Linked DNA regions of Homo sapiens. The protein of the gene in region 7 purifies or fractionates together with the protein of the main gene of each other region. This does not show direct contact. Each region holds a gene or a part of one and is shown on either strand. Other genes may lie near its edges.

Region 1 (3,500 bases), on a different chromosome or scaffold from region 7:
CAAGTAAAACTCAGTTATTTACTTTGCAAATTTGAGGATTTCTTATTTATTGCGGGTGTGGGGTAGTCTTCCCCAGTTGGATTCAAGACTCCTATAATTTATGTCAAAGACTAATTCCTTCCATCCCTTCAACTATCCTTCCATCCAAACCACCCCTATTTTCATTTCTTTCACTCGCATCAAAAATCTAGCCCTCACTTGAGTTTGCCAAATGATACTAAAGACAACCTAATAAAAATGCCCTTTTAGGAACAACACACACCGGGTCCTGTTGGGGTGTGAGGGGCAGGGGGAGGGAGCCTAGATGATGGGTCAATAGGTGCAGCAAACCACCATGGCCCATGCATACCTATATAACAAACCTGCACATTCTGCACATGTATCCAGGAACTTAAAGTACAAGTTTTTTTAAAAGCCCTTTTAATTAAGTGGGTTTAGTGGGCTCTTGTTTCTCCCAGGCCAGAGCAAATAATGCCAGCACAATGGCTTTTGAGCACATTCATGTCAGGTCACCCTTGATTCTCAGAAGGTCCCTGGAGCTGATGTGCATAAAACATAGTTTGTGGACTGTGCCCAACTGCACTGGAAAAATGACACTGGAAAAGGATGCAAGACACCTTCCATTCCCATCTTACAATTATTTCTGGTTTATCTATTACCTCAAAATAACTGCTAAAAGCACTTCTTCATTCTAGGCATTAGTCTTTTTGAGGATCTGGCCCCTGCTCTGTACTCCCACAGCCTCAACCAACCCACTATCCAGACTAACAAAATTGACTGACACTGAAGGGTTTGCAGTTTCCTAAGGCCCCAAACCCACTTGCCTCAGGACATTTTCACTTGACTGCTCTGATCTGGATCTTCCCACCTTCTCTTACTCATCCTTTACTTCTTAGGGTATATCTCACCATCTTCCTTACATGACAGCTGCTCTTAGACTCTACAATTCAGTGCGTGCCCTTGGGTCTTGTTTATCCTGACATTCCCAGTACCAGCATGGCGCCTTCCCTCCAAAGAACAGATGCCCAAGTAATGTTTGAGAAATAAGTGAGCCAGTGTGCAAGAAGTCAGTTTTATTATGATGTTCCTTCTCCTACATTGTTGAATAAACTAATCATATCTAAGTATCTATCTCTTAATTTTACAGAACAGACTAAACATAACGGAATGAAAGCATTTATCATCTTTTACATTTTACCTCTATTTCTTCATCCCAACTATTTTACTGCTTTTTTAAAAAAATATTTCCAAGGAAATGGCTAATCCACTACTATGTTATCTCATTGGAGATCACTAAATAAGATGGAAATTTTCCCATTTTTTTCTATAAAATAGTAAAACTCTACTCTAAAACCTCACAAACATCAATAAATGTATGACTTACTATCACTTATAATCTTGGATTCTTAAGCTACTTTAACCTTCTATTAAAAGGAACAACGTTTAAATATCCAAGTTACCCAGAACATGTTATGTACTATGTTATAACGAGACACAGCCAACCCTCCACTAGTGAAACACTGACTGTCCTCTTCAAAAACACAGTAAAGCATTTTCCTCAGCCTTCACTTGGAGCAGGCAAGGCTGCTGGACGTGGCCTTGGAACGTGCACTGGCCATGGTGGCAGTACGGGCCCTGGCTGCAATTCTGGCTTGGGATCTCTCTTCCACATCTTTCAAAGCCTCTTCATAATGGGATGGGAAGGCACTGGGGACTGTACCATGGATCTTGGCCAAAAACTCTAGGACTTTCATCTTGCTGGTTTCAGCATAGGCTCGTGGACGCCACAGGAATTCATAGCTTGGAGGACTGCTGTTGGGCACTTCCCAATACTCCAGGTACTGCTCTTGCACTAAATCTTTGGTGAGGAGGTTCCTGGGCTCTCCATAGATGACGTGCTCCTGTCCCTCGTATACCCCCATCATATTTAGCACCTTCCAGACTTCCTCCTCAGGGGCACAATTCCCCTGGCTGAAGATCGCACTCAGGATGGTCATCAGCAGGCCATTCTTGGGCAAACTTCTGTTAGGATTCACTCTTGTGTCATGGCCTAATTCTAGTTTGTTGACAAGGACATAGATGCTCTTGTTGGGATCCACTTCTCTCACGTCAAGGCCAAAGACCAACTCCAGGTGATCAGAAGCTCTCCTCAGGATCTCAGGGAAGAGGCTCTTTTACGTCTGGATTACATTTTTCAGCATATCTGCCTTTGTAATGGGCTCTTGCATTTGACATTTGTACAGCAGGTAATGCACCAACATAGCAATCTTCTTATCTATAGGGCCTCTGGGCCACTGCCCAGTGGTAGCCTGGGCCTGTGAGGCATTTGACCTTTCCTCAACTTGGCTGTCGATGCCTTCATTAGATGCTGTGCATGAAACAGCTGCAGCAGTGGTGATGGCTAGAGCTATCCCAGGCTCTTGCTCATTGCTGGGTGTTTCGACAGCAGATGACCTCTCAGGACTATCTTTGAAATGAGGAGATGAAGTGAGGGACTCTCCTTCCTCTGCTACAGTGACTTGAGCACCTTCCACGTCCTTGGGCTCTTCTCGAGCCTGGCGGCGTTTCTCACGGGCACGGGGCTTACTTTTCTGACCCCGAGGCATTATGACTCTGCTCAGAGGTAAGTAGTAGTGTGAGACAGATGGCAGGTGATGAAGTGACCTCAAGGAAAGAAGGTGTGATCCTCCAGCAGGAAGATATCACCTTGACTTTATGGAAGTTGCTTCTGTAGGTTTCTTTGAGAACACTGTTCAAGGATCCTATGAGGCTACTCTTCTCTGAAGGGCCTTTCCCCTGAGGAATCAGTGGAAGTAACTAGACTGTACCTTTGCTGAAGCCTGCCAGTATTACCTGCATCTTACTGGGACTGATACAGTGACTGGCAGGTCCAGACTCTATGGAGCTTCCTTTTTTTCTGGGGTAGACGATGTTTCTTTCAATTCACATTCAGGGCCATCACCTTGACTTCTGGCAGGACCTGTTATCTCACTGCTGAACTGTTTTGATGCTGACTCCCTCATTCCAAAGCGCTCATATCCTTGACTCCCCAGACAAGAAATTGAGGGGGAATCTCATGTGACCACATTTGCAGGGGGACATTGTGGAATGGCAGCAATGCAGAGATCGGTGAGACCCTCTTTATCTTGAGGTAATTAGTTTTCAGTCCTCAGTCTTTACTTTTGCTTCTTGGAGGGTCTGATTGCCCTCCTTTTGCTTACCTGAAACCTATCCCCTCCAAGCAAGGCCTTCACATCCCTGACATTCCTGATAAAGATATTAGGGAGGCCTCAGATGTATCTTCCCCAGGGACCCCTATCAGGAAAGACAGCACTCTTAGGGCTCTATGAATCCTCTTTTACTTCTGGAAATTCAGGTTCCTCCTAATGACTCCTCACCTTGACAGCCTCATACCTTCCCCTCTGAGGACTTGAGGCCTATACCAATCAGAGAAAGGCCCTCTTCCACTTGATATCCCAGAGTATGCAGTTGGAGGGAGG
Region 2 (4,320 bases), on a different chromosome or scaffold from region 7:
CAGAAGGACGGGGCTCCAAAGACCAGTGCGGCCCACAGCCGGCCTTACTGTCCTGGGCCCCAGCTGCCCAGTCCCCATCAGGTGGGCTTCAGAGGCCTCAGGGCTTGGTGAGGGGCTAAGAGGCTGAATTCTCGTCAAGCTCAGGCCTTCCCCTCATTCCCTGAACCTTGCAGCTCTCATCTGGGGGCAGTTGTGTCCCCAGGTGGCATCTGGCAACATCTGAAGACATTTTTGGCTGCCACGGCTGGGCAGGGGGTGCTGTTGGCATTGAGTAGGTAGAGACCAGTGGTTCTGTTTAACATCCCATAATGCACAGGACAGTCCCACATGTCACCAGTACCACAGTCGCTGAAACTCTCATCTCTAGGGATCCGTGGGAATAGAGGGGGTGATGGGGCTGGACACCCTGGCAGACAGGCCACAGTCCTTAGTCCACCAGGGAGGGGCCGGCTGCTGACCTGCACCCCACACTCGCCCGTCCAGGTGAGCTGCTCCCCGGTGTCTGCCCAGCTCCTGTCGGTGCTGCAGGGCCTCCTGCACCTGGAGCCCACCCTCCGCTCCAGCCAGCTGCTCTGGGAGGCCCTGGAGAGCCTCGTGAACCGGGCCGTGCTCCTGGCCAGCGATGGTGAGGGGGCGGGGCAGGGGCGTAGGCACAGCCTGGTGGGCAGACACTGAGGTCTTAGACCATGGGGGGGGGAGCCTGCCCTTGGCCCCAACCCATCCTCTGCCCAGGGGAGGTGGCCGCTTTTTCCTGCCTCTTCCTCAAGCCCCCATCCCTCCCTCTCCGGCTCCCTTCTCCCTTGACCCTGGACATCCCCTACTGCAGCCCAGGAATGCACCCTGGAGGAAGTGGTTGAGCGGCTCCTGTCTGTCAAGGGGCGACCCAGACCGAGCCCCCTGGTCAAGGCCCATAAAAGCGTCCAGGCCAACCTAGACCAGAGCCAGAGGGGCAGCTCCCCGCAAAACACTACAACCCCCAAGCCCAGCGTGGAGGGCCAGCAGCCAGCAGCAGCTGCTGCCTGCGAGCCCGTGGACCACGCCCAGAGTGAGAGCATCCTGAAAGTTTCGCAGCCCAGAGCCCTGGAGCAGCAGGCGTCCACCCCACCCCCACCCCCACCCCCACCCCTGCTCCCTGGTTCCAGTGCCGAGCCCCCTCCCCCTCCCCCACCACCCCCCCTGCCCAGTGTGGGGGCTAAGGCCCTCCCAACAGCACCCCCGCCCCCACCCCTGCCAGGCCTGGGGGCCATGGCCCCCCCAGCACCTCCTCTACCACCACCCCTGCCAGGCTCCTGTGAGTTCCTGCCCCCACCACCTCCACCACTCCCGGGCTTGGGATGCCCGCCCCCACCCCCACCCCTGCTGCCTGGTATGGGCTGGGGCCCTCCTCCACCCCCACCTCCACTACTGCCCTGCACCTGCAGCCCCCCCGTGGCGGGAGGCATGGAGGAGGTCATCGTGGCCCAGGTGGACCATGGCTTGGGCTCAGCATGGGTCCCCAGCCATCGGCGGGTGAACCCACCCACACTGCGCATGAAGAAGCTGAACTGGCAGAAGCTGCCATCCAACGTGGCACGTGGTGAGGGTCCCCAGACCCCCAAGGGAAGCTTCCCCTAGGACGGGGGCTGGTCTCTGCTGGGGAGAGGGGCAGGTGGCACATGGAACTTGTGTGCGCGTCCTGCCCGTGCGTGGCCAGGGCAGCCTGGCCCTTGCTCTGGGCTCGGCGCCTGTGGTTGAGGTGGGGACGGGGGAGGAGCAGGGCAGGGGCTACCTCTGAGGACCCCCCTCCACATGCTCCCGTGAGCCAGTGCATCTGGGGTGCCATGGTGCCCTGGGGCCCTGCTACAGGTGCTCAGGTAGGGAGGTAGGGTGCCTGCTGTACGCTGGACCTGGACCTACTGGGCCCCAGGCAGGACATCCTTTAGACCCTCTGGGAGGCTCCAGCCCCTGCCTGCTGGATCGCCAGGCCCCGGGGCTGCGAGAGCCTCACTGGCCGTGTCCCCACCCGACAGAGCACAACTCTATGTGGGCGTCCCTGAGCAGCCCCGACGCCGAGGCTGTGGAGCCCGACTTCTCCAGCATCGAGCGACTATTCTCCTTCCCTGCAGCCAAGCCCAAGGAGCCCACCATGGTGGCCCCCCGGGCCAGGAAGGAGCCCAAGGAGGTGGGGACGGGGAGGGGACTCAGACCGGGGCCGCCTGCCTGGCCACCCTCCGGTACCAGCCTGTTGGGTGGGGGGTTTTCTAGATCACTTTCCTCGATGCCAAGAAGAGCCTGAACCTCAACATCTTCCTGAAGCAATTTAAGTGGTGAGTGAGGGAGGTAGCCCCCATCCCAGGCCACGGAGCCTCGCCTCCACCTGAGCCTTCTGACTTGGGCCCAGCAGTGCCCTCTGCAGGCCGCCATGGGAAGTGCACACTGCATCCCCTAGGCAGGATTGTAGGCGGGTAATAGCCCCATGCTGCCCCAGCTAGGGGCTGTCCAGGCTCCCAGGGACAGAGCGCTGGGACCTCCCCCCACAAGGCCACAGACAAGTAGTGGCTAAACCAGTGGGCCCTGACTCTCAGCCCCCGAGTCCTTTCCTGCTGCGGGTGTCCAGCACTGGCCCGAGGGAGCTGGCTGGACCCGACCCATCCTGCATCTCCTGAGCAGGGCCCATGGAGGGTAGCGAGGGTGGGAGTCAGCCTGGGTCCCCTTCACCGCGTGACCGTGGGCAACAACTCGACTGTTCTGTGTCCCCCCTGCCCTGGCCACCCCATGACTACGTGGGGAAACCCTGCCAGGTGGGGTCCCAAAGAGGCTGGGTGGGGGTGACTCATGATTCACTCACCCCTGCCCGGTCCTCTCCCTGCTCCAGCTCCAACGAGGAGGTCGCTGCTATGATCCGGGCTGGAGATACCACCAAGTTTGATGTGGAGGTTCTCAAACAACTCCTTAAGCTCCTTCCCGAGAAGCACGAGGTAAGAGGACCACCCCCACACCCCACCCCCAGTTAGTGCCACCAACCAAGGGAGAGGCTGTCCCGGGGGCTCCCAGCAGGGAGACAGAGAAGGGAGGCATCCCAGCCCTACCTCTGCCCTGAACCGTGAGCCACAGGGAGCCATGATGGGCACTGGAGGGGCTGAGCCCGGCGGGCAGTCCGGGAGGGCGGGAAGCTGGCATGGGGGGATCCCACATGCCGTTCTCCTCCTGGCAGATTGAAAACCTGCGGGCATTCACAGAGGAGCGAGCCAAGCTGGCCAGCGCCGACCACTTCTACCTCCTCCTGCTGGCCATTCCCTGGTGAGCATGGCCGCCCTCAGACCCCAGGGCCTGGGCCCCAGGTGGGAGGAGAGCAGGAATAGGGAGCAGGGCCCAGCCAGGGAGGAGAAGAGGCTGTGCCAATGGCTGCCCCGGGCTCCAGGAGCAGCATTGCAGCGGTTGGGCTTCTAAACATCACTCGAGCCCCACCCCCAGTCCTTCCCCTCAAAGTGTGGGGCTGGAGGCCTCTGGAGGAATTGGATCCTGCTCTGCGCAGGCCCGGGAGGGTGCCTGTTGGATGGGGCAGGCGGTGGAAACCCCCTCCCTTTGCCCACCACCCAAGCCAGAGCCCTGTGCTGAGTGCCCCTCTGGCAGGGACAGGTGGGGGGTGCAGGCCACTGATCCCTGTCTGTGCCATCCCCAGCTACCAGCTGCGAATCGAGTGCATGCTGCTGTGTGAGGGCGCGGCCGCCGTGCTGGACATGGTGCGGCCCAAGGCCCAGCTGGTGCTGGCTGCCTGCGAAAGTGAGTGGGGCCAAGCGGGGCACGTGTGCAGGAGGGACAGGCCTCCGAACCGGGGCGGGAGGGCTGCTCGGGGCCCCTGCTACTGCCAGTATCATAATGGCTGCTAAGAGCACCTAAGGGTGCCAGCCTTCACCACCACTCCGGAAACCACCCTGCTGCCACCACCTCGGTGCACACACCTACTGGACGCACAGACACACGCATGCCCACCGCCACTCGGGCACGTGCACACACACAAGCACACTGCCACTCTCCGGCACGCGCACACACAAGCACACCGCCACTCAGGCACGTGCACACACGCATGCACACCGCCACTCGGGCACGTGCACACACACAAGCCCACAAGCACAGTCACACACATGCACACAGGACACACAGACACACGTACACACCCCCCCAACACACACACCCTCACATACATGTACAGACATAAGTGCACACACACGGGCACCATCTCTGAAAGGGGAATCCATGGGGACCTGCCACAGCCACTGGGCAGGGAGAGGGACAGGTACGGACCAGTGAGGCACAGCTCACGTCTGTCAGGCACACTGT
Region 3 (4,423 bases), on a different chromosome or scaffold from region 7:
TATTTGAATCTCCCCACATACACTCCAAAATCAAAACAGAAGAAGAACAATAAAACTTTGAAATCTCAAATCTTAGCAAAGCAAGAAGACACACTCAAGCTTCAGATTACCTGTCTACAGAAAAAGAAACATCAAATCCCAGCAAGCCGTCTATTGCAACTCTACACACCTTTGCAGAGAGCAAGGGTGATTTATGAAAAATCATGAGAGGAGGGGAGCTAACAGTAGTTCTGAGATTGATCTAAAATCACTGCCTAAGAGAAAGTCCACCCTAAATATGAGAAATACAGGCAGTTCTCACTTTGCACAGTTCTCTTATGCACACATTCCAGTTGCCATGGTTTAGCTAAATAACACAACAAACTTCAGTAACCACAGCAGCATATTAACCATAATTGCAAAAAGTACAAAACTCCGTTGCTGGCTCTTCACTCTGCAAATCACTACATAAATAACACATGTGCATCGCGATCAGTGATCAATCATACCACCTTTTTCAAAGTCTGTTAGGAATTGGTCATTGCTCATGTTATTCAGTTCACACACAGATAGCAGACTGTGGTTGTGTTCTTTGTCTCTCAGTGATAAACCCACATGATGTTTTATTAAAAGGCATAACAGAAAGAGGGGCTTGGCCAACAAAGATGAAAGTGCAGTAAAGAAATAAAAAGCATTAACACTGGGTATGAACTTAAAATTAGAGTTATAGAAGAAACAGCTATTACGGGAATGTTGATAATATTGCTGTTTGAGACTCTAGGTATACCACCAGAAGAACTAAGTGAAGGTGAAACATCTATAAGCAAGGGAAGAGCTTGTGATAAAAAAAGAGGAAGATGTTCTAGGGAACTGCTATGGGCAAAAAAACTTCACATAAAAGGAATTCTCAGCGACTTCACAACACTGAAAACACAAAACACACAACGTTGGAAGCTGATAGAAACTTAGATTGTGGTCATTTGCCAAGACACAGAAAAAATACTCCATCTTATAATTTATATAATGAGAAGAAGGCAATATTCACAATATTTCTAATGTTTTAAATTATAGTATACCATATACTGATTTTACTATTTAAAACATCATAGTATACTATATACTGATTTTACTATTTAAAACATCATACATTTATAACTGACAGGAAGAGTTTTCAAAGTTTTGGCAAAAATTTTAAAGGTCATAAAACAATCATAATTTTTCCCATTGATGATTAAAATCACCTTGTATCATTTCAGCTTGTGTGGTTATCATTATAGTATGGCACTGTCATGCAAAATGAGGATAGCCTGTTCAGAAAGAGGCCTGGTAAACACAGCACTGGCTATATGGAAGGCACTTAAAAGAATGTGCAAGTCAAAGTGGCAGGGCTCAAAGAGTGTAAATTTTGGTGAAGAAAGTTAAAAAAGGAGGGAGAAGCCCTTTGAAAATCAGGTGATAAAGGAAAGCTCAAAAAAGCAAAATTTAGATACCTGAGAAACAAAAGAGAACCTTTTTCCTATCAGAAAAATCATAGAACAACCCCAGCTACAAAAAAAGCCACCCAGTAAAGAAAGCATACTGCATTACAATGAAGAGAACAATCTTAAACTAGGAATTCTTATCAGAAAAAATAAAAATCACTAACATACAAAGTAACTCTGAGATGAAAATACAGCAAATGAAACGCTAACACCTAAGTATATGAAAATCTGCCTCTACTCCCAAGAAATAGGCATGAATCAGAAGAAAACTGTAATGTAGCACTCCACACTCAAATACATACCCTCAAACAACCATTTGGAAATAAAAAACGAAATTAAAAGCTAAAAACAGATGAACAAACAATAGAAATAAAAAGAGAAATAGTGTTAGAAAAGAAATAGAAGAAAAAGACAAAATAAGAAATAAATTTTAAATTACAGGATGACTAAGGAAGAATAATCTCAAATGAAAATACAAGGGACACTGAAAAAAGGAGAAAACATCCAAGAGAATAAAAATGAGATAAGTCAAAAAGGTCAAAGAGAAAGTGGCTGAAAAGAAGGTCAGGCAAAAAAATAAGAACAGACACTAAAATGGAATTCCTAAAAAGAAAAAAAAGAAGGAAAAAAAAAAAAAGCAAATGCAAAATAATGGACTAGAACTAGGGGTCAGCAATGGCCCAAAGGCTAACTCTGGCCTGCAGTCTGGATTTGTATGGCCCTCGAGTTAAGAAAATGGTCAATTACACTCATAATAAAAGAAATAATAAAATGAAAAATCATGAGAGGAGGGCAGCAAAATTAAAAATATACTGAAATATCACTTTTCGACTACCAGAAAAAAAGGTAAAAACAAAAAAAGTATAACGCTTTTTATTGGTGAGGCTATGTGAAAACAGGCACTCTCTTATATTGGTAGGAAAACAAACTGGTCTATCCTTTTTGGAGAGAAAATGGGCAATCTCTAATAAAATTACATATGCATTTACCTTTTGATCAGGCAATTCCACTACCAGAAATTTACCCTGAAGATGTATCTATAACAATATAGAAATATATATGCAGGAAGTTATTAATTACAGCATTATTTGTAATTGCAAAATATATGCTCTAAATGTAGAATAGCTGAAAAAAACCATGGTACATCTGCACATCCACACAGTGGAGTAATATAATAGGAAACTATAAGAAAAAGAGAAAAATCTCTCTGAACTGATAAGGAGTAATTTTCACATTGTATTGGTGTTTTTTTTTTTCTCCCAAGCTATATTGTTAAGTGAAAAAAGCAAACAGCAAAAAAAAAAAGAATATGGTATGCTACCTTATGAAGAAAGGAAAAGCATTAAAAATATCCATATCTTCTCATCAATAAGAAATGTAAGAAAGATAAACTGAAAACTAACGAGAATAGTTACCTACAGGGTGACAGGGAACAAGATGTTAAGTATGGGAGTTAAGAAGAGGGGGGAATACAGGGAGGGTGAGGGGCAAGGAGTCACACTTCTCTGTATATATCTTTTTGTATAGTTCTGACCTTAAGAACCAAATTAGTTTTTCACATATTAAGTAAATAAATAAAGTCAACGAAGTTGTGGGCAGGAGAGAGCTAAGTGAAGGAAAAGCCTAAAATGGAATTCAAAGAGAAACAAATAACCTAATGGTACTTCAAACAGATAACATAACCATATTAAAGGGGGGAAATAAAATAAGTAACTGGAGTACTTCTTAAATATAGTACTTTGACTATATGCCCTCAGACTCAAAACAAAAAGAACCAATGTATTCTGGGTAATAGGAGCCAGGACTGCTTGTCACTATCAGAAATGGAGTCATAAATGAAAGGACGAAAGTTAAAATGAGCCCTGTGGTGTTAAGACTGAAATTTGAGGCATCACGATAGATTCATGATTTTAATATATAGACATATAAATAGATACAGAAATATAGATTCTGTGTGTCTGTAAGGGGATGCCTATGTACACATACATTTCCTATCTCTGCCCGAGAAAAGGCCTAGAAGTAATGACATCGCAATACCAATGAGCATACTTAGTACCCAGATTCTAGTTTCTAAACCCTATCCTCCAACAAGAATAACCAAGGCTCCTCAAAGAAATGACTGATTCCAGAGCTGAGGATGGAAAAGTAGAAGATAAACCTGGAATATCTTGTGCCAGAAAGCAAGGAGGTCTTCAAAGAATGAGGGTAACATGTCAAAAGGGCATAGAGCCTACTAAAAGGGGTTCCACAGGCCTAATCTAGGACAATCTGAGCATCAAAATAATGACAGTAACAGATTACAACCCACTGAATAAAATAAGAAACTGAAGTCCATAGAGATATAAATAAGTAAGTATAAGTAAATAAATAAATGCAGAGAGAAAGTTTTTTTCAAACAGTAGAATTTTAACTGATATTTATAGGAAGGATGCTAGAGCTGGAAAATCATCAATGCATACTAACAACACTATTGGATAAAAATTTGATTAGGGACTCACTGAATATTTAGTCTCCAGGTATCTCACCACAAGATATTCGGTAATTACAAAGGGAAAAACACTAACTTTACAGAGAAAACTCTGGCATATGCCACCTTAACCAAGTGAGCAGACACAGGGCAAATCAACTTGCTGCACCTCCAAATACAGTGCACTGAGAAGACAGTATTACTTCTGTACTATTCATACCAAAAATTCTTATCACCCACCCTCCTATCAAACATAAATCTCTTTTCCTCTTAAAACTCCTTTAATGGTATCTTCTTTCTGTATCCAGAGGCTTTTTAAAATTTGGGCTGTTGTGGAATCTACAAAAATATGATCCACTGTTACACACTCACTTAAATGCAACTCCATTCTTCTTAGGAACTCACAGGCATTTTCATTTTGAAATATTGCCTATGAAAAGTTGAATTAACAGCCTAAAATATTCTAACAGCCTCAAAATAATCTATAAAATGAAAA
Region 4 (4,423 bases), on a different chromosome or scaffold from region 7:
CTCAGGCACAAACCCTTTGAGCCTTCAATGCCCCCAACACTTATAAGCAAATGTTCTCATTTCCACCATCCAGTCGTAGAGGAGGAGTTCCTTTAGTTCAAAGCCAGTCTCTCTACCCTCTTGATCCATCTCACCTTCTTAAACCTCTTCCAGCTTTCAAGACCTTGCTCTATTTCTTTCCTCTCTTCTGTTTCCAAGTGGCTCTTCCCTGTTGGCTCTTTCTTCACAATCTGTAAGCATACTTAGGTCTTGCCAGTCCTTAAAAACCAAAAACTACCCTCTTAACTCTATTTTTCTGTGACTATGCCTAAGCTTTTATTTTCTTTCATAGCTGGTCTTACAAAAAGGAGTTTAACTTGTCTTTATTGCCCCCTCTCCAGACAAGGTTTTTTATCACTTTATCTCTAATTCTTTTTTTTTCTTTTGAGGCAGTCTGTTTTTGTCACCCAGGCTGGAGTACAGTGGTGCAGTCTTGGCTCACTGCAACCTGTGCCTCCTGGGTTCAAGCGATCCTCCCACCTTAGCCTCCCAAATAGCTGGGACTACCTGCGTATGCCACCACGCCTGGCTAATTTTTGTATTTTTTGTAGAGACAGGGTTTCACCATGCTGCCCAGGCTGGTCTCGAATTCCTGAGCTCAAGTGATCTGCCTGCCTTGGCCTTTCAAGTGCTAGGATTACAGGCATCGGCCAGGCCACCATGCCCGGCTTCTAATTCTTTTTTTTTTTTTTTTTTTTTATTACAGCAAATGATTTTATTTGTAATTTCTACCCCACTCAGTGCCTCCTCCCAAAAAACCTGCACATGAATTTACAAACCTATTAACGTATAAATAATGAGAAACATCCTGGCCAGAGTCTCCCGGTTGTCTTTGCTGGAGATTAAGACTGGAGGGGACGCTATCTTCATACACACTTCCAGTGACATCGAGAGTCACTTGGTGGCTGTTCTGGGCCCACAGCTGGCTTTTTCAACACCTCCAAGTTCAACCACCAGTCTGTCTGCTGTGTCCAAGGTAGAGCCCAGGGACTGCGAGCATGTGCAGCTCCATTGCCCGTCATTGCTCCAGCTGAGGTCATGCTGGAAGGGGTGCTTCCTCTCCTGACAGTGCTTCATGGTGGCCAGCCCGCTCCTGCTGGCACTCAGAGCCTCAGTACTGGGCCACCTGGCAGCACCCACAGATTTTGAACTCCTGGAGCTACTTCTCAATCACTGTGCAGGAAGGGTAATGCTGCTATAGTAGGTGTAAGAATTCAACTCTTCCACCACGTCTCCATTGGTGTTACAGTACCAGGTCACAGTTAGGACAGGTCACTGCTCTTCTTTGGGGTCCATGGGAAGCTGCTGAATTGCAAACCAGTACAAGCTTTGCTACCTCTTCTGGAGGTCTCTTTGGCTTTGGGCCACCAGCCCCACAGCACCAGCTACAGGTTGTCCAGGCAATTGTCTCAGTCAGGGCATTGAGACGTACCGCCTGGAACCCAGGGGTCATGCCTCTTCTGTGCTCCCACAGCAACTCATGAAGGAGTCTTCCCAATCCTCTTCCTCAGTGCTTGTCAAAAGCATACCTGAATATCTTAGTACCATTTCTATCTGCATCTACTTCCATTTGGACCTCAGAGGAGTATCCCTCCACCAGCAGGATATCTTTGCTCATCTGTCAGCGTATTTGGTCTTTATCTGACTGCATACTGCCTATACTACTCTCTCCTACCAGAAGCTACAGCCACTGGTGACAGGAACAGAGCTCTCATGAGGGTAAAGTCCCTGGCTAGTACAGCTACACAGGTAGCTCCCTCGCAGCCAATGAGCTGAGCCATGTGATGTCCAATTTGAAGTCAGTCACAGCCAGGCCTATGCTCTCAGCCAGCAGTGCCACTCCCATGGGAGACAGGGGTGCTGGGGCAAGGCCAGGGCTAGGGTCAGGCCAGGCAGGCCCCAGGTAGGACAAGACCAGGCCCGGCTCACCTTGTTCATGCCAGACCTCCCAGGCACTGACCTCTAATTCTTAAGAAAGTGCCTAGTACAGACCAGCCTGGCCAATATGGTGAAACCCCGTCTCTACTGAAAATAAAAAAAATTAGCTGGGTACAGTGGCAGGCACCTGTAATCACAGCTACTTGGGAGACTGAGGCAGGAGAATCACTTGAACCCGGGAGGCAGAGGTTGCAGAGAAGCAGGATCACACCACTGTTCTCCAGCCTGGGCAACAGGATGAGAGAGACCCCCATCTCAAAAAAAGAAAGAAAGAAAGTGCCTGGCACATATTGTGTGTTTGATGAATGAATGAATCTTTACCATGCGTAGGATTCCAGTTAAATATTATTATTTATCTTTTGTTTTTGAGACAGAGTCTGGCTCTGTCGCCCAGGCTGGAGTGCAGTGACGTGATCTTGGCTCACTACAACCTCCACCTCCTGGGTTCAAGTGATTCTCCTGCCTCAGCCTCCTGAGTAGCTGGGATTACAGGTGCGTGCCACCACGCCCAACTAATTTTTGTATTTTAGTACAGACGGTTTCACCATGTTGGCGAGGCTGGTCTCAAACTCCTGACCTCATGTGATCCGCCCACCTCAGCCTCCCAAAGTGCTGGGATTACAGGCGAGAGCCACCACGCCCGGCCTATTATTAATCTTTTACAGAGAAAAATGAGGTTAGGTTGCTGTCAAGGTCACAAAGATCTTTAACACACATGCTGTAATTGTTTACAAACACTGAGATAATACAGAGACACTAACTGCAGGAATTTGCAAACACTGAGATATTACAGAGACAGTAACTGCAGGAAGCAACTGTCACCCCTGCAGCTGAGAAGAACAACAAAAGAGCTTGGGATTACTACATTGAGAAGCTTGGAAAAGGGACTACATGGAACTGGGGCTTAGACTTCTGAGGAGAGGACATAATGAGGCTGATTCTAGTGATGTGGAAAAGCTACATTAGAACCAACTTCCGCCCTCCAGTCTTCCATTAGTGACCCTTATAGGCACAGGTTAGCAGACAGCCAGCTGGCAAATAAGAAATGTAGCTGGCAGGGTCTCAGCCCCATATTATGAAGCTAAGTATAGAAGAGTGGATTTGAAACTGAGAGAAAATAGACCAATAATGAGCACGCCATTCATTAGACGATGACTTTCAAATCTATGTTTTAGCTAAAATTCATTATAAGATTTCGTGTAATCATGCCTGTAATAAATGAAATAGGGAGGTAAAGAAGTCTCGGATGACTCTAAGTGTCAAGACCTGATAAAAATTAGAGGTGTACTTTTACCACTTCCAATTCTAAAGTTTGCTTTGGGATAACAGTTGTTGTGGAATATTTATTTCTCTTGAGAATACCCAGAAAGCCAGACACATTTGCATAGGGGTAGATGTCTAATGTTCATCAAAACCTACCTGTTCATTAACTTGAAGCATGACCAAAAAAATATGGGGAGTAAATAACAAAATAGTGAGTATAAAGATGTCAAAATTATTTGAATAACTGATGGAGAATTTCCCCCTCTTCTTTTTTTCCCACCCATCTTTTGTATAGGGTTTATTTTTATCCCAAACCCCTTCCTCCCAGGTTACCAGTGGCACTGGGTGAAACAGTGCCTTAAGTTATATTCCCAGAAACCTAATGTATGTAACCTGGACAAACACATGTCTAAAGAAGAGACCCAAGATCTGTGGGAACAGAGCAAAGAGTTCCTGAGGTAAGTCTTGTCAATCAGAATGAAGTGTTAATACTCAGCTCAGATCATCACAGGTCTTTGAAGGAACTGTTCTATAACAATGCAGTAAAAGTGACTGGCTGGGTTTTTTTTTCCCTTCATTGTTTCCAAGCAAAAACAGCACAATTGTATTCTTTCCCCAGGAACATTTGGACAGATGCTTTGACAGTTATAGTAAATTGAGATCCATTTTAAAGACTTGCTTATCATAGCTTAGATAATTGAGTTCATCCTCATTAATCATCACATGATCCATTTCCATTAGCTTCAGCCATTTTTTTCTACTTAAAGTGAGTTCCTTTGAAGGCTTTTGGTATCCTAGGAAAGGTAACATCGAAAGCTCTTTGCTTCTACCCTCCTAGATGGATTCAGTGGTACTAGCCGTTTTATGATAGGTCAGTTGTTCCTGATGAGAATAACTAATATTTTCACCTTCATGCTTCAACATTCATTCATTCATTCCACAAATACTTAATGAGGGTCAGTAGTGTGTCAGGCATGATGCTAGGCGTTGGACACAGAAAGATAAAGGCACCCTCCCTGCACTCAGTAGTGCATAGTCTCTGGCAAGAATGCATTACCTATGAGAATAATTACTGTAGAGCTCAGAAAGTGTTATGATGCGGTTTAGAAAAATACTGTGGGAGCATAGAGGAGGAAATAATTATTCCAGGCAGGGTAGAAGTGTGAACGAAGAAAAAATGATT
Region 5 (4,423 bases), on a different chromosome or scaffold from region 7:
GCCTGACATATAACCAGGATGAAAATGAGTCACACTGGAATTTTAGCAACAACAACAAAAAAAACTAAGGGATCCCTGGCTATGTTCTGCCTAAGCAACTTCCAGCCCTGTGCTGACCATCGTCTTGGATGTGGAGAAGCTGCCCAAGGCCAGAGCTTCCATTTTTCCTCTAGAGGAGTCAGTGGTTCACTGAATTCTCTTTCTTCCTGTTGGACTTGAACTGTACATGAAAACAGGTTATTTGGGAAATGAACTTAATACTTCCTTAACCCACTTCTCCAAGTGCAAACCACCAAGACTCCTTCAGAAATTACATGTGCTGGCTGACAGCAATGAGAAGCACCCTGCCCTGAAACCCAGGGATATATTCCCACGGGGACCATCACACGAACTCTAAACCTTGAGCCTGAACTTGTCTTAGCAATAGGGGAAACCACAATGGCTCTAACAATGAGGTGCCCACAACGGTTATCACATACCTTCAGCATAAACTCATGCACCGGCCTGCCGATCCTTTCCTCGGCCTCCACGCTGTACTCTCGTGCCAGGGGCACAGTGGGGTGGTAGAGGCGCCAGTGTTTCTCTCCCTCCAGCTGCAGGATGAAAACCTAGAGACCCACAAGGCCCAGGAGCATCAGAGAGCTTCCTGACAACTCACACACAAAGTGCTTCCGGACTATTAGCCCTCTAAGGGGCTAATAGACAAATATATAGGTGAACCTTGAACAACACAGGTTTTTTTTTTTTTTTTTTTTTTTTAGTTGTTATAGACAGTCTCATTCTCCTGGCCAGGCTGGAGTGCAGTGTCACAATTACAGCTCACTGCAGCCTCTCAAACTCCTGGGCTCCAATGATCCTCTTGCCCTAGCTTCCTGTGTAGTTGGGAAGCTGGCATGCACCACAGCTCCCAGCTAATTTATCTTCTTTGTAGAGATGGGGTGTCACTTTGTTGCCCAGAATGGTCTTGAACTCCTGGCTTTAAGCACTCCTCTCACCTGGGCCTCCAAAAGTGATTACAGGCGTGAGCCACCACGCCTGGCCTAACAGCATGGGGATGAACCGTGCAGGTCCGCTTATATGCTGATTTTTTTCAATAAATTATATTGGAAAATTTGGAGGAGATTTGCAACAATTTGAAAAACATGAAAAATATCAAAAGAATTAAGAATGTCATAAATGCATCAAATATAAAAACATATGTAGATACTAGTCTATCATCTACTACCATAAAATATTCACAAATCTATTACAGAAGGTTAAAATTTATCAAAACTTACCTATACAAATACTTCTAGACCACCATTTGCAGTCAAGAAATGTAAACAAACTTAAAGATGCAATATGGAATAGCTGAATAAAATTAACTTTAGTACATATTGTACTACTGTAATAATTTTGTGCTACCTCCTGTTGCTATTGCCACGAGCTCAAGTGTGATGCTAATTATCTCCACATGAGCAGTTCCTCTCTCCAGTGAATTGTGTATCACAGTAAAAAATGATCTCTCAACAGTTCTTGTGTATTTTTCATCATGTTTAGTGCAACAACTTAAGCCGTGAATAACACCATGGGACCCATATGATGTGCCACTACTGCTACTGCAAGTACTCCCGAGAAACAGAAAAAAGTCGTAACGTTACAAGAAAAAGTTGAATTGCTTGATGTGTATTGTAGATTAAGGCCTGCAGCTGTGGCTACCCACCATTTCAGATGGACGATTCAGCTTGTAAACAAATGATGTAAACTTACGGTACTGATAAACACAATATTAAAAATACTTTTCCCTTTCTTATAATTTTAATAACTTTTCTCCAGGTTCCTTTACTGAAGAATAAAGTATATAACACATATAACATACAAAATAAGTGTTAACCAATTTATGCTATCAGTAAGATATCTAGGCAATGGAAGGCTACTAGTAGTTAAGTTTTAGGGAAGTCAAAAGTTACAAGCAGATTTTTGACTGCATGAGGTGTTGGCACCACTAACCCCCACACTGCACAAGGGTCAAGTTTCCGATAAAAAATAAAAATGAAAGATGAGAAATGCATGTCATTCCACAGTTAAACAAAAGTTGCCACTACTGGGTTTTATTTTTAAAAACGGAATCGTGAATCCTGACACTGGATATTCATTCTTTTCACTTTCTTAGAGCCTCGCTGAGTTCTTTATATCCCACTATCTCATTCCTTTAAATCTTCTATCAGACAGCTAAAAGCCCATAATCTCTGATGGAAAAGCCAAGCTTCAGATATTACTGAATGTCTAAATCCTGAATGTTGAAAGGGCCTGGGGAGATAGGAAAACTTCGAGTTTTTTATTCTTTATTCAGTCAAAGATATTCTATTAAAAATATTAAAAATAACATTTTGTGAAAATGTATTGATGTCAAATTGCTATCAAAGGAGAAAAAGGGGACTTTTTACCAATAACTCTGTGTTTACACCTTATATTAGGACAAAAATAAAACTATGGAATACATAAGCCAAAGAGTTAAATTTTTTTGGAAGCCATATCAGAGTGAAATCAACACTTGTCAAGATGCCAATGCTTAAGTGAAACCATGACCCTCATTCAAGCTGCCCCAAGATTTTCACAAATGGAAAATATATACATATTTTTGGCAGCTACTGAAAAAGAACAAAATGAAAGCACATGAAGGATTATTTGTGACCTCATCTTATTAAAGACCATACTTTGTGAAATTAAAGGAAAAGCCAAGCACACCTTTCTGTAGATAAATTCAATAAATACTTGTTTCAGACGAATGTGTGGCTCTTTAAATTAGTAAGGTTGGAAACAAGCTGTTCCTTTGAGACAGAGCAGGAAACCAGTTTAGTGGGATTTACTTTGGCCCAACATTTTGATGAAATCAATATCTCAGAAACTGCACAGAAAGAGCGAATACAGACCTAAGAGCCTTAGAGAATAATGTGAACTCACCCTGACAACTCTACTAAACCAGGCTCTCAACAACTCATTCTTCCCAACATGGGGCAATTTTCTCCATCTCTTACCTCGACATCATCATAATGGGGCGGCAGGCCCTGAGATCCTGCGGGAGTTATGTACACATTCGAGCCAACCAAGGAGCCAAAGTAACATTCCAGCTTCTCCTGGATCCTCCAAAGCTCATCCTTTACAAAAAAGGAAAAAAGAAAGGGTCGGCGTGGGGGAGTGAAAAATGTATTAGAAATAAGAATAAGAGCATGTTCTTGTTCACTTAGGAAGTCTTTACTGCACAACTATTATACACCAGATACTGGGAATTATGCAATGATACAGCCAATACCCATGGTCTCAAAAATCTTCCATTCCAGTGCAGAAACACCATGTAACAGACGTGAACAGATAAAGGGATGACTGACAAGGTGGGCAATTGGGAGTCCGGAAGGCTTTTAAGCAGGGAAGGACACAATCCAATTTACATTTTTGAAAGCTCACCCTGGTTATTGTGTGAAGAATGCACTGTAGAAAAGAGTGGAAGTCAGAGAGACTAGTGAGGAAGCTTCTCAGGCAGCAGCTCAAGCGAGAAGTGACTGGGGTGGTAAGAAAGGCAAGGAGGGAGGTAGAAGAGTGGGATGCACTCTAGAAGCAGCACAGACAGGACTTGCCGACAGACTCAATGTAAAGGAGCGGAGTTAAAAAAAATACTCTTGGGTTTTTGACTTGGGCAATCAGTTCCCCTTTCCACGTAACGAGATGGGAAAAACTTACTAAAAAACAAGTTTTCAGGACAAAAAAAAGAGTTTTATATTAGGAATGTTAAGTTTGGAATGCTAAGACCCCCCCCCCCCCCCCCACATGGAGATGTCTTTAAGTCGGTCTGAAGTTCTGGCAGAAACTAAGGACTGAAGATTTACACTTGGGAATTGCCTACACAAAATGGATATTTAAAGCAATGGGAACAGAAATGATAACACGGGAAGAAGGTACAGACAGAGAAGAAATAACAGGCTGGGTAATGTTCCTTCTCTCCACTATCAACTCTTCAGAGCAGACATCAGACTTAGGGGCCTAGCGATGGGCCATATATTCCCAGGAGAGAGAAGGAAGTCTGATTTTACCAAGGCTGGTGAGAAGAGAGGAGGGGGGCAATTAGGCCATGTAGATATTAGCACTTCCTATGTGCCAGGCACTGTCTCCAAGTGCTTTACAAATATCAATTATGCAACCCTCACAATAACCCTGCCTCATAAAGAGGGTACTAACATTATCTTCAGTTTACAGATGAGGAAACTGAGGCATGAGACCATGCAACTAGTAAATGATGGAGCCAGGATTCAAATTCAGGCAGCATGGCTCCAAAGTCCATACCTTTCAGAGAATTTAAGAAAAGACAAATCACAAAGGGCACTAAAGAGACTGAAGTTTTAAACATATGAATGTACAGTGCCTGGCACACAGACTGCATGACAACATA
Region 6 (5,056 bases), on a different chromosome or scaffold from region 7:
AGAGCCAAAAGAAAAAGAGAAGCAAAGGTAATGTTAGTAATTAGCCCCAATATATTCCCAATATTACCAGCCTACATTATTTTACACAAACATATTTTTCCTACTGTTTTAAGAGAAAGGGGTGGGGGGAAACAACAAAAGAGAAGGGGGTCTCATTCTTGCCCAGGCTGGAATGCAGTGGCTATTAACAGGTGCAATCATAGCACACACTACACCCCTGAACCTCTGGGCTCAAGCAATCTCCCACGTAGCTAGGTCTACAAGCATACCAAACATCACACCTGCCTAATTTTAAGTCAGACCACTGACAGAAGCCATTTCTTCCTTTCAAACTATCCTCCCAAAAGATGAGGAAACCATTCCCTAAGAGAAGTCTTTTAAGAAATACCTCTTGTTTTAAGCCATCCAAAAAGCAAATACAGTAAGCATGTTTCATTTTGAAAGAAAAATAGAAAGCTGCCTACAAAATCAATTTGTATCAAGAAGTCATTTTTCCAGTAATTTCTTCAAGTTTACTTCTTGAACTTTGAAAGATAAGCTTTCCTTCCCACTGGATGCCAGAGGAAGTGACTGAATGCTCAAGCTGGCCATTCATAGGCACTCCAACCCTCTCAGGGCTCCAGGGCCAGGCATGGAAAGTACAACTGCAGTCCAGGGAGGCCTGCAGCAGCTAACGCCTTCTTCAGATTTTCTCCTTATCGAGTCAATTTTGGAATTTCCTTAGTTTGAGAATTTCAAACAAAGGGCCTTGAATTTGCAAGAGGCAAGCACTCTCATCTCTTAGTTTTTGAGGACTCAATTAAATACGAAAAAAAAACCTTCTTAAAAATGGTAATTACCTTCAAACTTCTTTGAAAATTTAGATTAAATGACACAACCAAAAAAGAATTCAAGGGAAAATTATCCCTGTAAAGAGTACTGTAGGTTACACAGAATTACAAAGATCTCACACATTACTTTAAAAATACATGGTCAGGGAAAGGTTTAAAATCATCAAGATTGTACTTCCTTTTCATGGAAATAAACCATACACAGAAGTTATTACATTAATAAGTTGGCTGAATCACTAAATCAAAGTACAGGTCAAATAAAACCCTAGAAAAAAGTAAAAGCTCAAAATAGCTATCAATAAGTAAACTTTTCAGCAGCAAACTTTCATTTTACCATAAAAGAGAAGCAACTGAGGAGAGACACATATTGAACTTGCTTCACGTGCCTCCTTTGCCTTGACTATAAGCCTCGTGTTTCCAGTAGAGAGCTAAGGAGCAGAATGGCACTAGAGGAGTGCGTTTTCACTAGAGAAGCACTGCCTCTAATACTCCCCTCTGGGGTGACTCCATGACTTTCAGTAGCTCAATTTCCTCAACAACTGAAACAGCTGTTTTAGAAAATAAGCCAACTCATCTACAGGCCTTAAGTTATACAACTGCAGAGAGAAGAGGTGCCAAGTTCAGGAAGCCCAACAGAGACCAAATCAGAGCCAGACGCTGGGGAACTCCAGGTTTAATATGCCTTCCACTACTCACTTCCACACTCCAAGAAATGTCTCCAACCTTTCTGAGAGTTCTTTATGGCTCAGAATTTCTCCTTAAGATTTAAAGACCCAATTACTTCAAGGAGCAGCCACCAAGATTCCAGGCCAGCTTTAACCCAGAAGTCCTCCTCTAGAGCTGCAGTAAGATGTATGAATGCTACTGGGAAACTGTAGAGCACTTCCAAAACATCAGACATTTTCTAAAGAACAGAAAGCTACACTTAATTCACATTATTGAAAAGCTGCCAAACCACTGATTTTTAGACTTTATTAGTCAAGTCAACGCTATGGTAAACTATATTTCAATAAAGCCACTAAAAAAATACAGAGTTTCCAAATTCCTAACAGTTAAAAAGGATAAAGGGCGGAGACTAAGCTCAGATCTGTTTCAATCTCTCCATATTAAAATGAATGACTGCTGGTACAGACAGCAGAGACTAAACAATTATTTGTGGTGCAATCACTGCATCTTAAAACCCTCAAGAGGAAACAGCCTGAGAGGGTAGTCTCCAAAATGAGAAACTTCACTTTGAGACAATCAAAAGAACAAAACGAAGTCACAGTGCTACTCCCACCGCTGCTCTTTCAATTATAATTTACTAACATCAAGTGATTAAAATCTGCAGCCAGAAAAGATCATAATGTAGGACAACAAAGTAGGAACTGATCCCAAAACGCTAGACAGTATTCTCCCAATATAAGTGCTGCCTTTTCGTACAGTGTATTCTAGCTCCAATGGGACTTGTAAATCACTTATAAGGAAAAGAAGCCCCTTCCCCCACCAACCCAAGCCATCCTAATAGCTGGGCGTGTTTTACAGCAAATATGAAGCACTCAGGAGCGGTCCGAGGCCGACGCTTGCGGGGCCATCCTCCCCCACCCGCCCGTCACCAGGGCGAGCAGAGGCCTTTGGGGTTCCATGGCCCCCGACCGCCACGCGGCAGGACTCCGACCCCGCAGCCCAGGAGGCCCGCGCACCTCTGGGAGCAGCCGCATCTGGCAGAGACTCAGGGCTGCGCAGGCCTTCCCCAAGGAGACAGAGGCTTCTCCCCGCCCAGGGAGCCCAGTACCTCATGCTGTAAGCGCCGGCGCCCAGTTCCTGCCCGATGCCCGAGAGGCTGGCGTCGAAGTCGTGCACCAGCCCGGACTCGATCACCTCGTCCATCTTGAGCACCCAGGCCATCTTCCGGCCTCGCCGTCGCCCCGCACACCGCGGCCTCCGCGTCCAGGGCGAAGGAGCCGGAGCTCCGCTGGCGCGTCCTGGGGGAGGGCGCGGGTGAAGCCTCCGGAGGGGCGGCGAGTGGTCACCAGCGGCGGCCGGGACGAGAGCTGCGGGGGCCCCACTGGCAGGGCACGACGAGCCCAGCGAGCAATTGCAGCGGGAGCGGCCGGGCCGCCGGCAGCGCCACCCTCCCGCGGACACCGGCCCTGCGCCTCATGCCGGCGCCGCCGCCCAGCCCCCGCGCCGCTAGCGCTGCAGCCGCCGCCGACCGCCCCGCCCGGGGCCCCCCGGTCGCATCCTCCTCCGGGACCGCTGGGAGGCTGGACCTCGGGCCGCTCCGAGGACCACACGGGGGCAAGCCCTCCGCCCGCCCGTCACCCGCCCCCAAGCCTTGACTCCTTGCCCCCGGCCCGCCCAGGCTCTAGCGCCACACCGCCCCGGCCAACCCCGCCGACGCCGCTCTGCCGGCCGGACGCTGGCTTCAACGCGACTCCGACTTAGGTTCACGCGCCGCTTCCGCCTCCCCCGGCCCCGCCCCGACCCCGCCCCGGCGTTCGCCCCACGCCTCGGCCCTCCCCGTACAGCCCCGCGCTTAGGGCCACTCCCCGCGCCTCGCGGCCCAGGAACTGTCCAGAGAGTGCAATGCGGCCCCGCCCACGCGGCTGTTCCCAGCCGGGGTGGCCTCGCTGCGTCCCCGCACAGCAGCCCAGGAAGAGGCGGTGCCAAAAGGGCTGCCAGTTTCCGCCCCTTCTAGCGAGCGAGATGATTGACAGGCCAACTGAGCAATACCTGCAAGGGCTTGGACGAAGCTCCCGTGAGTCTCTGTGTCCCCCGACTAAACAACCAATCAAAATGTTCTTCACCTTGGGCGGGCTCGAAGACGGAATTTGTTGCCAAAAGAAAGAGTTCATTGGACTGCATGGTAGAAAGCGACCCAAAACGCCACTTCCGGAGGTGATTTGCTCCTCTGTGGTATTTCCCGGTCGTCTCTGCTTTATGCCCTCTCTACCGAGGGAGTGAGCGGTTTGCACCCCATCTGGTGACAGAAAAGCCAGTTGTGCAGAAAACCTTGATTGGCGTGAGAATAAGCCAATCAACGCTCCTGAGAAAGAGCTCTGGAAAGACTTCCCCTATTGGTTGCATTGCCGAGAGCAGCTTGGCTATCCTGAGTTGAACTAGCTGTTGGTCATCCTAAGGGCAGGCGGTCTCCTGAAGTTGGACCGAACCATTAGGACGTGCCACAGTAACAGCTACGCTGCTCAGAAGGCCCGAAGGGTCTTCCTCAGCGACCTAGCGTGGGCACGCGCCACTGCGGCCAAAAGACAGAAATCTTTTTACCGGAAGAGATGAAATAGAAAGCAGGAGCCAGAGGCTGACTTACAGAGCCAGTGTGCGGATCAGAGTTCCTTAGGAGCGGCTGCTGGCGCTTGACGGGCGGAATCCTTGCTGAAGAGAACGTCAAGGCCCGGGCTTCGCCCTGCATCGAACTTACTGCCTAAGAATAAGACCCAAATGCTGAGCGCCCCGCCCCAACTTGCCAGTTTAAGTGCAAAAATACATAGATTAAAATGTCAGCCTAATAAAGCAGTGGCACTGAGCCAGAAAAAAATAGTCTCAACGCCTGTGTGATTTAGATACTAACTTACAGGCTCACGCCTGTAATCCCAGCACTTCGGGAGGCCGAGGCGGGTGAATTAGTTGAGGTCAGGAGACCATCCCGGCCAACATGGTGAAACCCCGTCTCTACCAAAAATAACAAAAATTAGCTGGATGTGGTGGCGCGCCCATGTAATCCCAGCTACTCAGGAGGCTGAGGCGGGAGTAAGGCTTGAACCCGGGAGAAGACAGAGCAACACTCGGTCTCCAAAAAAAAAAACCACAAATTAACTTGGAGAATGTTTTTCTCTTTACACAACATTTTTGCAAACATTTCATTTGATAAAGCCATACTTTAGAGATGAGGTAATTCAGGTGAAAATGTGTAAAGATTACACAGTGCAAGGTCACACAGTAAGCAGGTAAACCGGGGCTATTTGACTAATCCAGATTTCTCTGATTCCAGGCGAAAACATTAGATTGGCCATCAGTTCAGGAAGCTCCATTCCACTATTACAAATAAATCTGCACAAACAATTGGATAGTCAAGGGAAACATTGGTCTCATTGGGGGTCTCAGATATGTCTTCATTCCATGATCTCACCTCACTTGCATAACCTAGTCTATAACCAGATTAGCCAGGCCTACTATTAGTTGTTGGAAAATTTGGAGAAATGGAATTGGGGGAAGATAATTCTCTGGTT
Region 7 (4,423 bases):
GTGGGATCACAGGGTGGAGGCAGGCTTTTCTCCTGCCCAGCAGCCCACCTCAAAGGGGCCCTAGGCCCCTTCCTCTGCCTCTGGGGGTGGTTAGACCAGACTCCCTGGGGTGCCTGTTGCCAGCGTGCTTCTCAGGGCTCCACCGCTCCTGTGTCTGTTGCCCACCTCCTTCTCCATCTGTGCCTCAGTTCCTCCTCCTGTAAAACATGGGAAAGGGAAGCCTGCACGAGCATAATAAACCCTGAGGACTCACACTGTGCTGGCCATGCTTCTTCCCATAGCTAATGCAGCGCTTCCTATCCTTGATACAGGACGGGATCGTGGAAGTTAACAGCTCATTCCCTGCTATAAATTACGAAGTCCTGTTCTGGCTTCCATTTCTCTTGTTTAGACAGAACTTAAACCTCATAAAGTGAGTGGAATTAGCTCTTTAGGTGAACAGACACAATTGTGTTTTTAGATCTGTAAATTCGAGAAACAAACCTGGTGGGACCTGCCTCCTGAGGGCCCTGTGTCTGTGTAGAGGTGGGGTGGGTGGGACCTACTTCCCCAGGGTCCTGTGTCTGTGTAGAGGTGGAGCGGGTGGGACCTACTTCCCTAGGGCCCTGTGTCTGCGTAGAGGTGGGGCGGGTGGGACCTACTTCCCCAGGGTCCTGTGTCTGTGTAGAGGTGGGGCGGGTGGGACCTACTTCCCCAGGGTCCTGTGTCTGTAGAGGTGGGGCGGGTGGGACCTACTTCCCCAGGGTCCTGTGTCTGTGTAGAGGTGGGGCGGGTGGGACCTACTTCCCCAGGGTCCTGTGTCTGTGTAGAGGTGGGGCGGGTGGGACCTACTTCCCCAGGGTCCTGTGTCTGTGTAGAGGTGGGGCGGGTGGGACCTACTTCCCTAGGGCCCTGTGTCTGCGTAGAGGTGGGGCGGGTGGGACCTGCCTCCCCGGGGCCCTGTGTCTGCGTAGAGGTGGGGCGGGTGGGACCTGCCTCCCCGGGGCCCTGTGTCTGCGTAGAGGTGGGGCGGGTGGGACCTGCCTCCCCGGGGCCCTGTGTCTGCGTAGAGGTGGGGCGGGTGGGACCTGCCTCCCCGGGGCCCTGTGTCTGCGTAGAGGTGGGGCGGGTGGGACCTGCCTCCCCGGGGCCCTGTGTCTGTGTAGAGGTGGGGTGGTGGGACCTGCCTCCCCGGGGCCCTGTGTCTGTGTAGAGGTGGGGTGGTGGGACCTGCCTCCCCAGGGCCCTGTCTGCAGTGAGCAGGGCGTCTTCATTTCTGGCTGCTCTGAACTCACGGTTAAAGTCCTGGTCAGTTTTGCTGCATTTCAGTAGTTTGTCCAACAGTGTGGCTGATCAGACATTGGAGGCGTTCTTACAGATTCAGGTTTCCCTCACCACCAGGGGTAATTGACCTCTTCGTCTGTATGTGTTGGTGACATAAAGCTGAGCAGATCACTTACGGATTTGCTACATAGACGAGTAATAATTCCTGGACAAGTCGAACCTAGAGCCCCAGGCTCCGGTCACTCACCCATCCTCCCGTCTGCTTGGCCTGGAGACAGCCCAGGCAAAAAGGCGGGAGAGTCTGGCGGAAGGCTGGGCTCCTTCCTCAGGCTTGAACCCGTGCCCCCAGCCCTGATGATGTCAGGCCCGTGTTGGTAGTGGCCACACAGGCTCGGCAGCCTGGCTCCGTTCACCAGACCAGGGTTGGCAGCTCACTGACCCTTGGCTGCATTGGTTGAATTTGAACCAATTTGTGATTTTTCTCTTTTGCCCTGTTTCTGGGGCAGCCTGGGGCTCTGGCATCCCCAGAATTGGACCTGAGGCTGTTTATTTCTCCAGGAAAGTCCAGGTAAACCACCAGAACTCTCAGTGCTTTGGCTTCACGATTGGTACTGACGGACTCCGGTCTGGGGGAGAAGGCAATAGAGATAGAGATGCCTGATCCTGTTTCCAGGGAGAGGGACTTTGAAGTACTCAGTTTAAGCCCATACTTGTAGACAGGAAATCAATATTCTGAGAGATACAGGGGCTGACATGTGTATGGGGTTGGCAGCAGGGGGCTGACGGCCCGGCTCAGAGCACATTCACAAACTTCCAGAAAACGCGTGAGGGTCCTTGGATTCAAATACACTGTGAATCTGTCAAAGCCAAGTGCAAAAGGTCAAGTTGTAGTGACACCATTTTATTTTCATTGTCTTATGTTCACTCTCATGCCTTACATACCAGAGCCCCTACTCAAATTCAATTAGGATTAAATTCAGAACTTCTGTTCCCTGCGGGACTGGCCCTTCTTGGTGTGGACAATGCGCTCATTGAGAGCAGCCTGACTCTTCCATTAGCAATCCTAAAAGCTATACATTATCTCCAAAGCAGTATTTTAGAATTTCAAATATGAAAACTGCTTGCTTGTAAATTCTTTAGCTGGGGCAACTGCATTTAATTGGTTTGCATTCATTAATGGGTAGATAACAGATTATAGGGTTCAAGCAACAATTCTTACTTTTTTCTGGCTAGCATTTGTGATTCTTCAGTTCCTGTTTCCTTTCATTACTAAGATCTTTCCTTTTATATTATTATTTCCTTTTTTAGTTTTTTAAAGGCAAATCAGGCATTTTTATCTGGAATGGAAAACTATTTTAGGCATAGGCATCAACACGGTTCTCCCTTTGGCCCTAGTGAACTATGTAACAGAGACTTGAAAACCATTCTTCCAGGGTAGCTGGAGTGCCCCTGACTCCGCATTCCCATAGTCACACTCTTGTGAAATCTGGTGGGTAGAAGCTGATGACGTTTTTAGCTCATGTAAAAACCTCATGATGCCTGGACTGTTATCTATGGGATTAGTGTCCCTGAAACAAAAGTCTTAGTACTGTGGTAATGACGAAGAAGCATTTTTCTTTCTTTTCTGTTTTTTGTTTTTTTTTTTTTTGAGATGGAGTTTCACTCTTGCCCAGGCTGGAGTGCAGTGGCGCTATCTCAGCTCACCGCAACCTCCGCCTCCCAGGTTCAAGCAGTTCTCCTGCCTCAGCCTCCCAAGTAGCTGGGATTATAGGCACATGCCACCATGCCTGGCTAATTTTGTATTTTTAGTAGAGATGGGTTTTCTCTGCGTTGGTCAGGCTGGTCTCGAACTCCCGAACTCAGGTGATCCGCCCACCCCGGCGTCCCAAAGTGCTGGGATTCCAGGCATGAGTCTCCGGCCTTTTTCTTTCCTTTATTATTACCATTTTAAATTTATTTTAGATATGGGGTCTCACTGTTGCTCAGGCTGGAGTGCAGTGGCATGATCATAGCTTATTGCAGCCTCGAACTCCTTGGCTCAAGCAGTCTTCCCTCCTCAGCCTCCCGAGTAGCTGGGACTACAGGCATGCGTCACCATGCCTGGCTAATTAAAGTGTATGTGTGTGTGTGTGTGTGTGTGTGTGTGTGTGTGTGTGTGTGTATTTGTAGAGATAGGAGCCTTGCTATGCTGCCCAAGCTGGGCTCCAACTCCTGGCCTCAAGCAATCCTCCTGCCCTAGCCTGTTCTTTTTGAAGCTAATGCCTGCTGTATTGGGTTTTAAAGGCTTTTGATCATCATCTTCTGTAGTGGGAGAATGACTGTGGATTCCGGGGACACTGTCTGATTTCTGCCTGCTGGGGTCCAGTCCAGCTTGACTGGAAACGGATTGACTTCTCAGTCTGAAGCTGACCCCTGGTAGGCGTGCGGAAGGGAGGAATGTTGCCCTTCAGGTGCTGAATTCCAGAGCACAAGCTGCTTGCCAACAGGGTGGCTCTGTCGCCCAAACAACAGCATTCCCAGGCTGGCTTTTCCCAGAAGAGGGAGGTGACCCGGGTAGCTCTCGCACTTTGACCCTCAGACTGGCAGCAGGGCACATTCTTCTGACTCCTACCGGAGCTGGTCTGGGCTCAGCTCCCAGCTCGCTTTCCCTCCACATCCCCAAAGGGCACACTGTCGGCTTTGCTGAAGGGGGAGCTGGAGTCCACGCTCGGGGCCTGGGAGACCACAGTGGTCAGTAGACAGGTCTGTCTGGCTCTTCTCACAGGACATGAGTGTGTGTCTCTGTGGGCGCCTCTCTCCAGGGTTGCCCAAGGGGTGACCAGCCTGCCTCAAAATCCAGGCAGCATCGCCCAGCAAGGTTTGAGGACTTGGCGTCATCAGAATGTGTGGCCATTTCAGAAAGATTGGGGATGGGAATGGGATGAAATTTGGTTGTGCTTCTTGGCTATTTGGCTCTAAACAGTGGTTTATTGGCAAAGGACAGTCTGCCTTAGAGAGCCACATGTGTGCAGGTGTCATGCGTTCAGTCCATGCTCCAAAGCCCCACAGACCAAGGGGCCTTAACTTCATTTGTGTCAAGACCCCTCGGCCCCCGAGGGGTACAAGCCCAGGACCCCTTCTCAGAACACTATGCCCAAGTGCGTGCAGTCACATACAAAGG

What was found.
Region 1: the proteins of RAB20 (region 7) and MAGEB10 purify together in Homo sapiens (affinity purification with mass spectrometry; one large-scale study listed by BioGRID and IntAct). This does not show direct contact.
Region 2: the proteins of RAB20 (region 7) and INF2 purify together in Homo sapiens (affinity purification with mass spectrometry; one large-scale study listed by BioGRID and IntAct). This does not show direct contact.
Region 3: the proteins of RAB20 (region 7) and PGGT1B purify together in Homo sapiens (affinity purification with mass spectrometry; one large-scale study listed by BioGRID and IntAct). This does not show direct contact.
Region 4: the proteins of RAB20 (region 7) and ALKBH1 purify together in Homo sapiens (affinity purification with mass spectrometry; one large-scale study listed by BioGRID and IntAct). This does not show direct contact.
Region 5: the proteins of RAB20 (region 7) and RIOX2 purify together in Homo sapiens (affinity purification with mass spectrometry; one large-scale study listed by BioGRID and IntAct). This does not show direct contact.
Region 6: the proteins of RAB20 (region 7) and UBP1 purify together in Homo sapiens (affinity purification with mass spectrometry; one large-scale study listed by BioGRID and IntAct). This does not show direct contact.

Annotation. Positions count from the first base shown.
Region 1 is NC_000023.11:27,810,990-27,814,489, reverse strand, and holds part of MAGEB10 (melanoma-associated antigen B10), read right to left. Parts: intron 1-3,500.
Region 2 is NC_000014.9:104,706,427-104,710,746, forward strand, and holds part of INF2 (inverted formin-2), read left to right. Parts: intron 1-483; coding exon 484-625; intron 626-826; coding exon 827-1,576; intron 1,577-2,009; coding exon 2,010-2,161; intron 2,162-2,244; coding exon 2,245-2,306; intron 2,307-2,854; coding exon 2,855-2,957; intron 2,958-3,193; coding exon 3,194-3,279; intron 3,280-3,661; coding exon 3,662-3,762; intron 3,763-4,320.
Region 3 is NC_000005.10:115,231,462-115,235,884, forward strand, and holds part of PGGT1B (geranylgeranyl transferase type-1 subunit beta), read right to left. Parts: intron 1-4,423. UniProt on the Homo sapiens protein: Catalyzes the transfer of a geranyl-geranyl moiety from geranyl-geranyl pyrophosphate to a cysteine at the fourth position from the C-terminus of proteins having the C-terminal sequence Cys-aliphatic-aliphatic-X.
Region 4 is NC_000014.9:77,694,013-77,698,435, reverse strand, and holds part of ALKBH1 (nucleic acid dioxygenase ALKBH1), read left to right. Parts: intron 1-3,535; coding exon 3,536-3,698; intron 3,699-4,423. UniProt on the Homo sapiens protein: Dioxygenase that acts on nucleic acids, such as DNA and tRNA. Requires molecular oxygen, alpha-ketoglutarate and iron.
Region 5 is NC_000003.12:97,958,572-97,962,994, forward strand, and holds part of RIOX2 (ribosomal oxygenase 2), read right to left. Parts: intron 3,138-4,423; coding exon 3,018-3,137; intron 609-3,017; coding exon 480-608; intron 1-479. UniProt on the Homo sapiens protein: Oxygenase that can act as both a histone lysine demethylase and a ribosomal histidine hydroxylase. Is involved in the demethylation of trimethylated 'Lys-9' on histone H3 (H3K9me3), leading to an increase in ribosomal RNA expression.
Region 6 is NC_000003.12:33,437,132-33,442,187, forward strand, and holds the start of UBP1 (upstream-binding protein 1), read right to left. Parts: upstream 3,275-5,056; 5' UTR 2,718-3,274; coding exon 2,605-2,717; intron 1-2,604. UniProt on the Homo sapiens protein: Functions as a transcriptional activator in a promoter context-dependent manner. Modulates the placental expression of CYP11A1. Involved in regulation of the alpha-globin gene in erythroid cells.
Region 7 is NC_000013.11:110,526,902-110,531,324, reverse strand, and holds part of RAB20 (ras-related protein Rab-20), read left to right. Parts: intron 1-4,423. UniProt on the Homo sapiens protein: The small GTPases Rab are key regulators of intracellular membrane trafficking, from the formation of transport vesicles to their fusion with membranes.